Regions from separate parts of the Homo sapiens genome. Here region 1 is linked to region 2. Evidence: fine-mapped expression QTL. Tissue or cell type: whole blood. Region 2 holds a variant in brackets; the other region holds the start of a gene. All regions are shown on one strand. Distances are between the middles of the regions.

Evidence for each region. PIP is the estimated chance that this variant, and not a neighbour inherited with it, causes the effect.
Region 1: CD58 starts here. The variant in region 2 is fine-mapped to the expression of CD58 in whole blood (TOPMed, PIP above 0.99).

Annotation. Positions count from the first base shown.
Region 1 is chr1:116,569,965-116,572,590 of GRCh38, reverse strand. It overlaps CD58 (CD58 molecule), which reads left to right and starts at 1,565. Exons shown (of 6, transcript NM_001779.3): 1 at 1,565-1,688. The coding sequence starts at 1,619. It overlaps LOC124904385 (a long non-coding RNA gene), which reads right to left and starts at 1,616. Exons shown (of 2, transcript XR_007066497.1): 1 at 1,538-1,616. RefSeq lists silencers at 1,364-1,823, 1,894-1,963 and an enhancer at 2,434-2,493.
Region 2 is chr1:116,518,192-116,520,950 of GRCh38, reverse strand. It overlaps CD58 (CD58 molecule), which reads left to right. Exons shown (of 6, transcript NM_001779.3): 5 at 1,684-1,720. Among named protein-coding and RNA genes, the nearest start is that of MIR548AC, 41 kb to the left of the region's middle. The variant A/G (reference allele first, on the strand shown) is at 1,686.

The sequences.
Region 1 (2,626 bases), 52 kb before region 2:
TCCCCAGGCATCAGTTTCCTCATTTGCAAAAACAACAGCAGCAGTAAGACTAAGTTAATCCAAGCAATGCACTTCACACAGGGCCTGCTCAATAGATGTTTGCTGTCATATCACTTCCCAGCTCAAAAACTTTCTGTGGCTCCCCAGTGTCTGAAGGTCTAACCCCATCCTGCCTTTCTAAGTTGGCCTGAGTTCCTACCAGCCCAGGGCAGAGAACACTTGATTTCCTCATATTTTATGTTACACACTGCCCCTGCCTTGTGTTCCCAGTATCTACAGATGGTAGGGAATATCTCGAGATAGCAGGTTTGTGGTAGAGGGCATTGGTCCCAGAAGTTTCACTGATAGAGATACCTTTTAAGATTTTATGGCTAACTTAAGAAATAATTCATGTCTCTTTGCAATATGGTTCAAGTGTCTTGAGTGACTTCGAGTCCCCACCTGGGGATAATGGAGGTGAAGCAGCAAGAAAGCACATTCCCACTCAGTTTCACAACCTGCACCATGTATGTGTTGGTGGTTATTTGGGCAGCAGGGAGTCCTGTTCATGGAAATGGATTCCTGCTCACATAATAACTAAGAGTTCTGTGAACTCCCTCAGCTGGGCAGGGGCAACTCTGGTGCTTCTGTCTGCAAGAAAGGGGACAGACAGGGAGGCTGATGTGAGGAGCTGGTTCTGGGAATAGGGTCATTTGTTCTGGGATATAGGGATGTGAGGGGAGGGCCAGCTCAATCCAGACTGATGAAGAGCGGGGAGAGTGATGAGTGCCTGCCTCAGCTTGGGCTGGATGGATGTGGGGAGGCTGGGCAGTGAGGGAGATGTGGATCTGACATCTCAGCCTGAGGGAAAGTCCCGGTTGAGATGGGGGAAGACAGAAAAAGAGGAATCTGAGAAGGGAGAAACCAAAGGCTGGAAATCCCAGCTCCGGGGATAAGGGAGTATGGGGACGGGGGAGGCCTGCCTCAGGTAACCCTACGCCTAACAGTTGTCTAAAATGCTCCCTTTCCTTGTCATGTTTGAGGAAAAGTGGTTCAAAGAGGCCGTCTGATGCGGGATCACACAGCGCTGAAGGGATGAGGGGCCCCGGGTGCTCCCGCCCGTCCTGCTGCCTCCTCCGGTGGCTCTCTGGGAGCCACAGCCCCGTCTAGCCACGGAGGGGCCTACAGCACGCCCCAAACGCTAAGGGGAAGCGCGGGAGGTGCGGTAGGAAGGCAGAGAAACCTGGTTTTTAAAACCAAGCCATTTTCAAGGAAAGAATTTCTTACTTTAAAACCTTGGTTTTTAAAACCAAGCCATTTTCAAGGAAAGAATTTCTTACTTAAAAATAGCGTATGGAATGGCGGCGGAATGACGGGAGGGACCGAGCTGGGGGACTGGACGGCGCCCCGGGGACACAGGAAGGAGGCGCGCAGAGCCGAGGCCAGAGGCGCGCCCGGGGAGTGGAAGCGCGAAGACAAACGCGGCGCCGCGGAGGGTGGGGGAGGAAGGGCCGGGGCGGGCCGCCGGCTGCCAGCCCAGGGCGGGGCGGAGCCCTACTTCTGGCCGACCGCGTAGGCGGTGCTTGAACTTAGGGCTGCTTGTGGCTGGGCACTCGCGCAGAGGCCGGCCCGACGAGCCATGGTTGCTGGGAGCGACGCGGGGCGGGCCCTGGGGGTCCTCAGCGTGGTCTGCCTGCTGCACTGCTTTGGTGAGTGAAGCCTGCCCCAGGGGCCCCGCGCCGGCCGGCGGGTACTGGGCAGCACCCAGGCTGGGTGGACGCGCCGGGCTCGAGGCGGTTGCCGATCAGAGACGGGTGGGGACGGGTCGCTGTGGGCCGGGAACAACTCAGCCGTGGGAGCCTTTTCAGGAAGAGAAAGTTGTTATTTCATCGCCAGTGTCCCTCATGGAGTCAGCAAGGAACTGTGTGGCCTTAGGGAAGGACGGGCTCCGGCCCGCTAGCCTCTCCTGCGGGGCCTGCGCCCCCCCGCCGGCCCCCTCCCGAGCTCCAGTGACCAAGTTCCTTCCTGGGCTTCCCCAGTAACGTCGCTGAGCGCTTCAGCGGACTGCAAAATTTTTCCCAGCCGTGAACGCGCCCGGGACGGGGAGCGGGCGCGGATGCCACCTGCTCGAGGGCGACGCCTGCTGCCCTCCCCGCGCGGTGCCGTCCCCGCCCGCGCGGCGTCCGCCGTATCAGCAGAGAGGACTTTTCAGAATCGCCCCACAGCGAGGAGCGGGTAGGCAACTAGGAAGCCCAGTCGGCAGCGGCCTCACGTTGGGATTCCTAAGTGGTGCGACTCCTGCTCCTTTTTCCTCCCCTCAAATCCTAAAAACTAGTATCAGAACTGGTTCCATCCTCTCCGTGTGTTGTCAGCCAAGTCGTCACAACAACCTCAGGAAATAGGTCCCCTTCTTCCCATTTTGCCTCCCCATCCTCCTTCACCCTCCACACATTGGCCCCAGTCAGGCCATAGCAAAACCCCGGGAGTACAGCAGTAACCTCCCAGCGAGTTCAACTGTACTTGAGGGGTTCTCATGGCTGGCTCCTGCACCCCACTGCCAGCCCTCCAGCCCGTCCGTCCGTTTGCTCAGCGTCCGCTGCCTGCCCGGGAGGTGCGCGTGTGCATCTATGGAAGACAGCCAAGGGGG
Region 2 (2,759 bases):
AAAGTTTTCTTGGTCAGTGCAGAACTAGACTATTTTGCGATATCAGTGCTAAATATAATTTCCTGATGATAACATTTTCATATTATAAGTTGTAAATACCATGAAAATCCATCCCTAAGTAATAGATTATCAGTCAGTTGACTCTCCACTAAACAGTATTATAACGATCAGCTGAAGAAAGTTTTCAGCTATTGCCCAATGCATAAAATATTTTGGGAGCTCAAATTTTTTAAAAATCTATTTTAATCCCCAAATAGCAGTATAATAGTTAATCATCTCCTGAACAGGTTGGTTCCCAGAAACCAAAATCATTTTCCACTCAGTGTTGTTGTAGATCTCAATTAAAGAACTAACCCAGGATACCTGAACTAAAGAGAGGTGGCACTGAGTTTCCATAGAACTTCAAAACAATTGGTTGATTTCACTTAAAAAAAAAAAAAAAAGTCATTCAATATACAGAAAATTACTCCCCTGGTCAGTACTGTTAGCCCCAGATAATCTGAAAAAATTTGTTCTTAAAAAAAAAAAACAATTTGGAGGCCAGGCATGGTGGCTCATGCCTGTAATCCCAGCACATTGAGAGGTCGAGTTGTGTGCATCACTTGAGCCCAGGAGTTTGAGACCAGCCTGGACAACATGGTGAAACACTATCTCTACAAAAAAATACAAAAATTAGCCAGGCATGGTGGTGCATGCCTGTAGTCCCAGCTACTCAGGAGGCTGAGGCGGGAGGGAGGCAGATGTTGCAGTGAGCTGAGATTGTGCCACTGCACTCCAGCCTGGGTGATGGAGTGAGACCCTGTCTCAAAAAACAAACAAACAAAAAAACTCAGCAAGCATCTCAACCTTTAAGCAACCTTAAAGTCATTAATTGGGAAATAGTGAGATGTTTGGCATGGAATCTTCAGAAGAGGAAAGAGTTGAATGGAAACAGCTCCAGCTGCCTAGTTGTAGTTGACAGACAACTTTATAAGCTCTAGTCAACCCTATTGACTAAGCTTCTGAACCACTAGCATAGTTCTAGGGTCAGGCGGATGCCTACTGTGGGCAGGAAAGTGATGCATGCATGTGTGGGAGCAGTGTCTTAATGTCTGAAATAGTAGCCATGAGCTACATGTGGCTATGGAGCACTTGAAATGTGGGAGTCCAAATTATCATGTGCTGTGAGTGTAAAATAATATGTTTCTAAGACCGTGTGTGAAAGAATATAAAATATCTCATTAAAAAATGTTTATATTGAGTACATGTTGAAATAATTTTATATTTGTGACACATTGTGTTAAATAAAATATTAAAATTTACATTTTTTTTTACTTTGTAATGTGGATACCAAAAATTTTAAATTACTTATGTGGCTTGCATTATATTTCTATTGGACAGCACTGGTCCAAACTATTCTAGCCTTCCCTGCATCTTCAGCCTTATGCACGAGGTAAAATTAGCCATTTTGTCAACAGTTTTTGCATTTGGTTTTCTATCATGTTCTGACCAATTTTTGAACAACTCTTTGGACCAGCTCTGTAGCCGATTTGATTTAAAGCATATAGGATAGCAGGAAATCCCAGGGTGATGGGGCTCTGGCTTAGTTTTCCATATTTAGGCCTCTAATAGGCAGTCAGTAACTCCACATTTCACCTTTTCTTTTCAGTTCTTTAATTGAGAAGACAATTTCTTCATTTTTAGGT[A/G]TTCTGAAATGTGACAGAAAACCAGACAGAACCAAGTAAGTACACTGCAGGCTGTGCACTCTGTGCCAGAACAACAGCAGCCCTGCTGTAGATGCCCATTACTTGGGAAGCCAGATTGTACTCATCTGTTGGTTGCCTTGTACAGTAATAAGAAGTAACATCAGCAGATATACTAACCATAGTGTATTAAGTACCAACTGTGTGCCATGCACTGCACTAGCCACTCTCTGCATATCGTTTCCTGGAACCCTCTCAATGAGCCTTGCAGGAGGAGTATCATACCCCTTGCTTAGAGACAGCGCATATGAGATTCATAGAAGTCAAGTGAGATATCAAAGTCACGTTGCTAGTAAGTGATGGGCTGGGATTTAAATCTAGGTCTTTGGACTCCAAGAGTTATACTGTTAACCACTACAATACACTCCCTCCACCTCCCATCCCAGAAAAAGTTGGATCAGGGATAGGGTTCACTTCAGGAGCCAGGGTCAGAGCTGGGCCTGTAGTCACATATAAAAGATAGGACACAAACACAATTAGCAGCAGTGTTGGTTTAATAAACCGCCGTAGGGTGCTCCAAGAGGCCCCCTCCTGGCAGATCCCACTGGTGGTCAGGAGGCAGAGGCATGAGCTGGGTGTTGAGGGATGAGGGGAAGAGTTAAGGCCCAGGGTGTGAAGGGCAGGACAAGAAGTAGCAAGCCATCCTCTTTGGAGCAGAGAGTGTTGAGGCATTAGAGAAAGATGGGGCTGGGCTGGCAGGTTGGGCCAGGCTGAGACTTTGAGAGAGGCTTTGGGTCATTCTTTAGGGAGAACCGCAGAGTTTTCTAGCAGAACTATGCTTTAGTAAGATCACTCTGCTGGCAAAGCATGGGACTAATTAATAGGAGATGAGATGAGGACACTGGTTAGTGGAGTAATGAAATAATCCAGCCAAGCAGAGAAGAGGGCCTGAGTCAAGGTGATGGTGGCAGAACTGAATATGCAGAGCTAGGTTTGAGAGAAACAGCAGAGGTCCTGTTAGCAAAACTTTCATCTGGCAGTGTAGGCTCTGATGCCAAACTCCCTGGTTCAAATGCC